2 separate regions of the Homo sapiens genome follow, and region 2 is linked to region 1. The links come from fine-mapping of genetic effects on gene expression. A gene starts in region 1. The other region holds a variant in brackets. All regions are shown on one strand. Distances are from middle to middle.

Region 1 (5,371 bases):
TAAAGACAGGGTCTCACCATGTTGCCCAGGCTGGTCTCTAACTCCTAGTCTCAAGCATCCTCCTCCCTCATCCTCCCAAAAAGCTAGGATACAGGCTTGAGCCACTTGCCTGGGCCAAAAAAATTAGTCCCAAAATATGACAGCACTCAATTAGAATTATTGTGGACAAATTCCATTCTCTGGTATTGGGTACCAAAGACGTGTTTGTTATTACACAGAAAGAAATAATCAAGTTCATAAATTCAAACTGGTTAAAAAGAAAGCTTCTCGGCTGGGCACCGTGGCTCACGTCTGTAATCCCAGCACTTTGGGAGGGTGAGGCGGGTGGATCATGAAGTTAAGAGTTCGAGACCATCCTGGCCAACATGGTGAAACCCTGTCTCTATTAAAATACAAAAATTAGCTGGGTGTGGTGGCGGGCACCTGTAGTCCCAGCTACTCGAGGGGCTGAGGCAGAATTGCTTGAACCCTGGAGGCAAAGGTTGCAGTGAACCGAGATTGTGTGCTGCTGCACTCCAGCCTGGTGACAGAGCGAGACTCCATCTCAAAAAAAAAAAAAAAAAAAAAGTTTCTCATAACCAGATCAGAATCTATCCTAAAACATACTCAGAAAAAGTAACATGCAAGGTAATTTGAAATCAGACTTTAAAGCATGTTTTGAAAAGATGGCAAGCATTTCCATTTGTTTTCATAGCTTTTTTTAATGACTTGACTCCAAATAAGAAGGATGTCTTATTATTTAGCTTGACAACATCTATGTTAAAGAGACTAGGATCTAAACCCCGAAGAGAAATTCAGAAACTAGAAAAAAAGAAAATGAACCCGGGGTGTTAAGCTGGGAACCAAAAAGAGCACATTTCAATTCTTTTCCACCGTAATGCCACAAAACCGTACCTTAAAACTTCTAAGATTACAATCTTAGGTAAGAAAAGGAAATATTTTCAGTTACAAATAGACATGTCTTTGCGCCTTCATTCTAGACTTTTTTTTGAGACGGAGTCTCCCCGTCCCCCAGGCTGGAGTGCAGTAGCTCTATCTCGGCTCACTGCAACCTCCGCCTCCCGGGTTCAAGCAATTCTCCTGCCTCAGCCTCCCAAGTAGCTGGGATTACAGGCACCTGCCACCACGCCCGGCTAATTTTTGTATTTTTAGTAGAGACGCGGTTGTGACATGTTGGCCAGGCTGGTCTCGAACTCCTGACCTCTGGTGATTCACCTACCTTGGCCTCCCTAAGTGCTGGGATTACAGGCGTGAGCCACCGCGCCCAGTCGATTCTAGACTTGTTTCCACTAAGACTTGGGGAACCCACACTTGTTGAAAAGGAACTAACTCTCCAAACTAGTTTTATCAACATGCTATCATTTCAGTCAAAGCACAGCTAGCCACCTAAAACCATGTATCATCAATGCATATTCTCCTTAGACAAGGTAACAATTTGCAGTATCCTAAAACATAATTATTTAAACTGTTACCACATGTCTTCTTAATAGCTAAAATACTCTGCTGCCAATCTTTAAAAGGGTAGGAATACCAACCGGGACCACAGATCACTTAAGTATTAAACCCAAGTACCTATAGAAAAAAATTGTTCTTAATCTGTTTGACCTTCCTCCTAATATTTTACTTGCCTTCCCTCATTTTTTTAATCCATGTATTCCCTATTCCTATCAAAGGGGCTGTCATAAGGAAAACGTTCGGCATTGTTTCAAACAGTATAATTATATTCACTCAATCACTGACTTAAAAAAAAAAAAAAACCCAAGTAGTCACAGGCTATCGAATTGTAGAGAAATCGGCAGGGTAGGTTAAGCATTGTTACTCAGTTTTCAGGAAGAAAACAGACTTTATTAGAGTCCTAAGAAATGTGACATTTGATTAACTTCATGGGAAAAGTTTGTCATAAAGTTTATTTTAAATACAACATTTTCAAACGCACAGATGTCAAGCATTCTTTTTTAATCTACAAAGCTTACTCCTCGGGGAGTTAGTATCTGTGAGCCCTCTTGGGTGAATTCTGCAAAGGAGGTGGTACTGAAAAAGTATTATTTGTGTTTGGCCTTAAGTACCTCTACAAGACCTGCCGTGGATCTTATCAGCCTTGAGGCCTACAAGTGCTCAGCTCACTAGCGGGACACTTGTCCTGGGTGAGCAGGACCGCCACTACTGCAGACACCGGACCGAGTAGGTGGGGGCCAACTTCAAAGAAAGTGTGAGCGCCCAGGCGCGCGAGTGGAACAAAACCTGTAGCAAGTAATAAGGAAGTGCTTGCTCCCGCCCGCCCTTCCCATCCGGGGACACCCGAAACCTGGGGGGCTTTGACAACGTGCTGGGGGCGTAAGACGGGGAGAGTGGCAGCTCCGAGTACACGGAGAAGAACTGGAAACATGCAAAAACTCCAAACACGGTCCCCCCCGCCAGAAGCCCTAGGCCTCGGAAGCCGATGCCCACTGCAACCATCAGGGAGCAGAGACAGAAACAGTAGTTAAGGAGGTCGTGGAGGTCTCAGAGGGGTGCAACCCGCGCGAAGCCAGGCCCAGCGACACGAACTGCCGCCGCTGCCGCCCCCTGAGCCTCCAGGCCCGGGACAGAGACCACCATGGGTCTCACCCCGCGCTCTACCCTCCGCTTCCTGGAGCCTTCTCGCTGGCCTCTCATCTTCAGAGCGCGAAGCCTCCGAGAGCCGTGTGGAGAAGAGTCCGCCCTCTCCCGCCTCGTCCCACTTCCCCGTCCCGGCTGCCTCTCACTCCCTAGAGCTCCGGGAAACGCTTCCAGTGGCCCCAGGTCCACCCCTGTTCCTCCTCCCACCGGCTCTCGCGTTCCCAAGCTGACACCGCCACCCTACCCTAGCCCCTGACGCCAACCCGCCTCACCTCAGGCGGCTCCGGCAGCGCTGGACACAGGAAACTCCTGGGTCCCCGACTCCGGCTCTCCTCGACCCCCTCTTCGGTTAACTCCGCTTGTTTCTCTACAAAATGGCGCCGGAGGTCGCGCGCTCACGTCGCGGCCTTTCCCCTCCCCGTTCCCATTTCATCATTCGCTGCCCGCCCGAGGAGGGATGGCCCCAGAGCCAGCCAATGGCCGCGCCCCGCCTGTGGCTTCTACCCAATCACCGACAGGTGCCCGCGGATTTAAACCAATCACACTCTATCACTTGCAGAAGTCGAGGAAGAAATCAGGCTCCTGCTAGCAACTACCAATCCGGCCTCCTACTTCGCGGACTTTGGCCAATTGCCGCTCACCAGGCCCAGGGGACCGGAGTCAGAGCCCTCGCGCCTGCGCTCGAGGCGAGGGCCAATAGGGAGAGGCTGATAACTTCGATTTGGGGCTTCACGTACTTCCCACCTGCCCTGGAGGGCTGCGACCAGTGGGGCTTGGCATTGCCTTTGAGGAACAATAAATTATGGAAGGGGCCCATAACTCCTCGCCACCCTGCGCGGGAACTACTTTGAATTACAGTGAAACAGCTTTCCTCCACTTTCCTTCCTCTTTCGAAATGTCACGGTCCAGTAGACTTCGGGGATTCCCAACCGAAACAATCCCCTCCCCTAGTGTCCCTTTGGCGGGGAACGCCAGCCAGAAAGCAAGCCAGGTTGTGACTAGAGTTGGGGCGCTTTGCATCCTGGGATGTGTAGTCGCGCTCCTCTACCCCGTTCCCATCGCAGAAGTAATGCGTCTTCGTTCGTCGCTGCGCCCTAGAAGGAGCAGTGCATGCTGGGGGTTGTAGTCACCCAGGTGGCCACCTTGTCCTCGCTTGCTTCGCTTTGGTCAAGGGAACTTTCTGTTTTAGTTCTGTCTATTGAAGAAGGGACACCTTCCAGAGACGCCTTCCAGAGACGTAGGAGACGCAAGTTCTCTTCCTGGCTTAAGTCCTAGAAGCCGTCTAAGAAAGGATACCCATGTCCTTTGCTCTCAAGAGAAAAAGCATAGAAACATATTTTGCTATGGTTTGTTTGTTAACTATGATAGTTGGTAAGATTTTATACTCACCTGTACCCAAAAGAGAAAGGATTGGGAAGGAAGTGTTGACTGGTTAGCTCTATTACCTTTTGAAATTAAGGCCGGGCGCGGTGGCTCACGCTTGTAATACCAGCTCTTTGGGAGGCTGAGGCGGGTGGATCACGACGTCAGGTGATCGAGACCATCCTGGCTAACACGGTGAAACCCCATCTCTACTAAGATACAAAAAATTAGCCGGGCGTGGTGGCGCACACCTGTAATCCCAGCTACTTAGGAGGCTGAGGCAGGAGAATCGCTTGAACCCGGGAGGCGTGGGTTGCAGTGAGCAGAGATCGCGCCACTGCACTCCAGCCTGAGCGACAGAGCAAAACTCTGTCTCAAAAAAAAAAAAAAAAAAAAAAAGGCAGGGCGCTGCGGATCACGCCTGCAATCCCAGCACTTTGGGAGGCCGAGGCGGGCGGATCACGAGGTCAGGAGATGGAGACCATTCCGGCTAACACGGTGAAACCCCGTCTCTACTAAAAATACAGAAAAATTAACCGGGCGTAGTGGCGGGCGCCTGTAGTCCCAGCTACTCGGGAGGCTGAGGCAGGAGAATGGCGTGAACCCGGGAGGCAGAGGTCGCAGTGAGCCGAGATCGCGCCGCTTGACTCCAGCCTGGGCGACTGAGCGAGACTCCGTCTCCAAAAAAAAAAAAGAAAAGAAAAAGAAATTCAAACCTATCCCTGTGCTCACCCCTGTCCTCAGACTAGGCTCAGTAGGTGGTCTTCTGGCCATCTCTCTCATATTACCTCTCGTGCCCAAAAAAATACTTAAAAAAAATTATGGTAAGAAACACATGAAATTTACCATCTTAATCATTTTTAAGTGTAGAATACAGTAGTGTTAACTATATGCATATTGTTGTACAACAGATCTCTAGAACTTTTTCATCTTGCAAAACTGAAACTACATCTGTTGTTTAACACCTTCCATTTCCCCCTCCCCCTAGTCCCTGACAATCACTATTCTTCTTTATGTTCCTGAGTTTGATTACTTTAGATACCTCATATAAGTGGAATCATGCAGTATTTGTCTTTTTGTGACTGGCCTAGTTAACTGAGCATATGTCCTAAAAACACATCTTTTTTTTTTTTTTTTTTTTTTTTTTTTTTTTTTTTTTTGAGACGGAGTTTTGCTCTTGTTGCCCAGGCTGGAGTGCAATGGTGCAATCTCAGCTCACTGCAACCTCCGGCCTCCCCAGTTCAAGCAAGACTCCTGCCTCAGCCTCCCAGGTACCTGAGATTGCAGGCACGTGCCACCACACCCAGCTAATTTTTGTATTTTTAGTAGACACAGGGTTTCACCATGTTGGTCAGGCTGGTATTGAACTCCTGACCTCAGGTAATCCACCCGCCTCAGCCTCCCAAAGTGC
Region 2 (5,378 bases), 78 kb before region 1:
AAAAATTGAAAAAAAAAAAAAAAGGGGGCTACAGCAAAGAGCATTATCATTATCATGAATAATATCCAGGGGAGAAAAAAAAGTAAGTGAAAAAAAAAGAAAAGGATGTACAGAGGGCGACACCATACAGAATATGCTAACCAATACTATGCTGCTTATGTATAACAGTGGTAAAGTTCTAAAATCATGCATGGCATGACAAAAACAATTCATAATAGTGGTTACTTTCAAAGAAAAGGCACAGGGTATGCCTATAAATTTAAGTTCTGCATAAAATTTAGTTCCATATAAGAAACAAAATCTACAGCAATTTCCAGAGGTACCTAATATTGACAATATATATGGAAAAATAGCAAAAATCCTACCTATATAATCAAATATTTCCAAATTCAAAGCAATAATTAAAGGAAATATAAGAACCAACTCTTACTTTAATGTTTCTGTAGGTCTCATTCAGAACCATCTTGTTAAATTCAGGATTCTTCAGCGTGTCAAGGAAGTTTGAATACAGGCTATGAAAGTTTGGCTCAATACTGACTCTCTTCATAACCAGATACTGTGAAACCCAAGGCATAAATTCTTCTTTCACCGTTTCCTTTAGCTCTTCAACCTAGCCGGTCAATACGACATGGGAAGCACAGAATTACACTATGATAAAATAACACTTGGTTTCTATGAACCATACTATACAGCACATGGCTCCTTGCAAAACTAACTAGATGCTAAAGAATGACTTTCCTTCACACCAGATAGATGCTATGAAGAAAAGTATGCTCAATTCCATAGTCAATCACAACTCAACCCATACGTGATTGGGACTGAAACATCTATGGCTATTTTCAGCTTTAAAATTATAAAACATGTAGTACCCCATCTCCACATAAATTACTAATCTATAAGCTGCCATTAACATACCTACAGTGTAACCAAGAATGGGGAAAATTCCAGAACTATGTTTTCCTAAATTTCCATCTACAGGAATCCTTAGCTAACTCTGGCGTTTCCAAGTACAGTTAGTTGACCCTTGAACAAGGATTTGAACTACATAGAGTAAAATTAAATGTAGATTTTCTTCTATTAATACCTCCACTACCTCGGAGACACCAAGACCTCCTCTTCTCCTCCTCAGCCTATTAAATATAAAGTTAAAGACCTGTATGATAATCCATTTCCACTTAACAGATGGTAAATATATCTTTTCTTCCTTATAATTTTCCTTCATAGTTTTTCTAGTTTATTTTATTCTTTTTTCTAGTTTATTTTATTCTAAGAATACAGTATTATATGCATATAAGATAGGTGTTAATCAACTATTTGTTTTATCACAGTAAGGCTTCTGCATGGCAGAAAAAATAGTAGGCTGTTAACAGTTAAGTTCTGGGGGAGTAAAAAGTTATAACAGGATTTGGCTACATACAGGATTGGCAACCCTAACGCCCATGTTGCTCAAGGGTCAACTATACTGTCTTACCATGTAATCTGAGGGGCAAGTAGCATGCATTCTTTATGCTTTTCACAAAGTTTGCCTCAGTTATTAGGTTGTAATAAATACTCTGAATAGTCTCTGGGAGAAAATGAGGTATGACTAATGACTAGTACAAATGAAACTTTCTATCACCATGAGAACATTAAGCTTATTTCAAAAAGCTTATAACTTGCTGCAAAACAAAACCTTAAAAACTGGTACTATTTAATGTCTACCAAACCCACTAGTTAAATATACATATTCCCTTTGAGTTTATTACCTCTACCTTTAAAGTGAGTATGTAAAAGGGCCAACTATACATCCTTTAGTCCATTAAGGAAAAAAGAAGGCATTTATAAACTATGACAGCATGCTCACCTTTTGTGTCATATTTGACTGTGAGAGATTATTGAAAATAAAAGCAATTTTCTCCTGGATATTTTCTGGGGGCTCCACAATTCTCTCAGTTTGATCTGTGGCCACAAGCAACGTATCTATATTTGTAGTATTAATAGAAGGCTAAAAAAAAAAAATAAAGTACATAAGGCAAATAAGTTGAAATGCTTCCCTGAAAAAAATCCAATAATGTATACAGATTTAGTGTTAAAAAATACACATGGTATGACTGTGTATTAGAAATGTAGGCAAGAATAGTGAACTATTAATATGTTTGCCTCTGGGAAATATAAGGATGGGAGATACAAAGGAAGA[C/A]ATGTCAGTCTTTTATATCTTTTTTAGTAGGCATGTGTTATGATAAAATTCTAATACATGTTCACCACTGATTATTACAATATAATCATAAATCCTGGAAGAGAAAAAAGATAGATCTACTTACTGGCACATCTTTCTTAAAGCTGACTCCAGTTGGCCTGGTGACCGTAACCGTTTTAGCAACAGTGGTAGTTGTTGAGGTGGTTACCATAGTGCTAACTTGACCAGCAAGAGGAGCTTTTGCTGGAACCTGGGCCTGAGCCTGGGCCTGAGCCAGTGCAATACTTCCAGGGGTTGTGATAGAGCCTTGCATTTTCACAGGAGGATCTCTAGACTGCTGTCCATACTCAATATACTAAAAGGGTAGGGAGAGGAAAAAGAGTTAACCTTAATTGCTAAGTCTGGATTATACGTCCCTCTTTTCTGAGAGGGTAAAAAACATGTCTGAGTGCTCTTTTGGTTCATCTAGCTCACATACTCTTTGCCCCATACCCTGGCACTAATACATAAGTAGATTCCATGAACTTCAGCGATAAAATCTTAGTATTTATGAGAGAACTACAGCAAAACAACTTCTAAAGAAGCAGCCCCAGATACCTGCATATAAATGCCTTTAAACTTCTTTAAAAACGCAAACTTTAAAAGTCTTAATAATTCATACAGGAAACTCATCTGTTTTCTAATTAGGCAGCAATGAGAAACCAAAGGCCTTAAAAAACAAAACAAAAACCATGGTAGTATGAGTTATTATCACAATAAAGCTGTTATTACGAAAAAAAAAAAACTCACTTTACATAGCCCATCCCCACAATTTAGAGTGATAAGGATCCTGAAGCTATTTCAACAGTCCTTACCTAGCAGAACTAAACCTACCAATTATGTATGCAACAGTTTTATTTTTAGAGGGACATTTCTCAAGTAGGAAAGAGTCTCAGAAGAAAGTATAGCCCTTTACGCTGATAAAGTACAGAAAGTGATGATCTCTCTCTCTCTCTGGCTATCTTGCTACAGTGGGTGCTAGGGACTAGTTTTGAGTGATCACTCCCCTGCCATCTCACTCTTTCTCCAAGTCTTTCAAGCTCTATATTCCTGTCTCTTAATTTGTCTCAATCCACTCACTTGAATGAATATACTCCACATTCCCAGAGATTAAGTCATTACAATAACCCTGCCCTCCTAATAAACCTAGAAGGATGAGGTAGAGAACACTGAACTAAATTAAAATACAGAATATCAAGTAGGTTCAAATTCTGATCTTCCTGATTCCTTAAAATAAGATCTTATAAAGTTGCCTACTGCATGTTAAAAATAAAGTCAATTAACCAACTTTCCTGTTCTATATAAACTGATGTTGACCAAAACCAAGACAAAGGTATAGATAATGCTTACCAATTAACCTAAAATCAGTCACTGAAACAATGCTTCTCAAATTTCAGTAATAATAACAATCATACAAAATGGTTTTTAAAATGTATATTCCTTACGTCTATTTTCCCAGGGACTGACTCCTTTTAAATAAGCATCTCAGGCGGGCGCGGTGGCTCACACCTGTAATCCCAGCACTTTGCAGGGCGGAGGTGGGCGGATCACCTGAGGTCAGGAGTTCAAGACCAGCCTGGCCAACATGTTGAAACCTCGTCTCTACAAAAATACAAAAATTAGCCAGGCATGATGGCAGGTGCCTGTAATCGCAGCTACTCAGGAAGCTGAGGTGGGAGAATCACTTGAACCCAGGAGGACAATGTTGCAGTGAACCAAGATTGCCTCACTCTAGCCTGGGCAACAGAGCAAGATTTCATCTCCCCCTCCCAAAAAAAAAAGAAAAACAAAACAAAAACCACACCTCAAAGGAATCTAACGAGGTGGTAAGAAGCCTGTATTTTTAATAAACATGATCTAAGTCTTATGTGTAACAGTTTTGGCTCATATTAACTCAAAAATTTCAGATTTTTATACACAAGATTCCCACTCCAATTCCCTTTTAGCATCAGGCAGGGTGTCTGTACTTTATCTAAGATAAAGATTCTCTTAGTAAAACTGTTTATTCTTCAACTGCATTACAGGTTAAAAGAATGAGTAAAAAGTTTTTGAGGTAAGCCTGCTACTTAGAAAAGATAATCCAAGAATGATTATTTTTTCATGTTCTCTTGTAAGGCCACAAAATGAGCAACCTCAACAAAAGATATGTGTACCTATATCATGCCAATCATTAAGAAATCTTAATGCCATTACTATCAAGTCTACAAAAAAAAGCCAAAATATTAAACCCTCCAAATACTACATAGCTATTTGGGTTTTAGTTACAGAGGGCACTTACCTCCTGTAAATGATGTGGAAATTGCATAAAGTGACTGATAGAAGCCAAATGCTGACAATACTGGGGATAGTCCTTCAATCTGCCAACAAAATTATTCTACCATCATTTCATGTCAGAACAGAAGCATCACTAACAAAATGTTTTTGTCCAAATGCTAATCTAGGTCATTTTTTTCCATCTTACCTATGAATAACTTATTTGAAGAAAATGTCAAAGTGAAGAAAACAAAAATAGAAGGAGAAAATACTTATGATTTTCACAGGATTTACATCAGAAAATACACTACCTCTGATTTTTAAAGGCTATATTTTACTTAAAAATAGATTAAAACGAGCCACTTCTCTGGAAACAATTCAAATTTTCACCAACATACGAATGGAAAAATAATTTGTAGTCAACTCATATAGTAGAATACTACACAGCTGTAAAAAAAAAAACAGACTACTGAAACGTAGTAACGTAAGTCTCAAAAAACTACATATTTGTATGACTCTGTGTAAATGGCATTCTAGAAAAACTTTAGAGATTATCAGAGATTGGAAGTCAGGGAAGGGGACTAACTACAAAGGGGAACAAGGAAACCTCTTGGGAGATAATGAAAATATTCTGCATCAGCCAGGCATGGTAGTTTATGCCTATAATCCCATCACTGTGGGAGGCAGGAAGATCACTTGAGGCCAGGAGTTCCAAAATATTCTGTATCTTGATTGTGGTGGTAGTTACACAACTGTATAAATTTGTCAAAATTCAAAGAACTATACACCTAAAGGGAAGACTTCTACTGTACGAAGTATACCTCATAAATAACCAACCAAAAAACCTCTGTTCTCATTTTAGTTTTCCTACCACTTATATTAAAAAAGAGAGGCTTTGGCTGGGCCCAGT

What was found.
Region 2: its variant is fine-mapped to the expression of CNOT1 in whole blood (TOPMed, PIP above 0.99).

The regions. Positions count from the first base shown.
Region 1 is chr16:58,626,858-58,632,228 of GRCh38, forward strand. It overlaps CNOT1 (CCR4-NOT transcription complex subunit 1), which reads right to left and starts at 2,969. Exons shown (of 49, transcript NM_016284.5): 1 at 2,871-2,969. RefSeq lists enhancers at 2,046-2,722, 2,723-3,398, 2,847-3,056, 3,347-3,836.
Region 2 is chr16:58,549,289-58,554,666 of GRCh38, forward strand. It overlaps CNOT1 (CCR4-NOT transcription complex subunit 1), which reads right to left. Exons shown (of 49, transcript NM_016284.5): 22 at 4,494-4,572; 23 at 2,301-2,531; 24 at 1,844-1,984; 25 at 431-610. Among named protein-coding and RNA genes, the nearest start is that of SNORA46, 3.3 kb to the left of the region's middle. The variant C/A (reference allele first, on the strand shown) is at 2,177.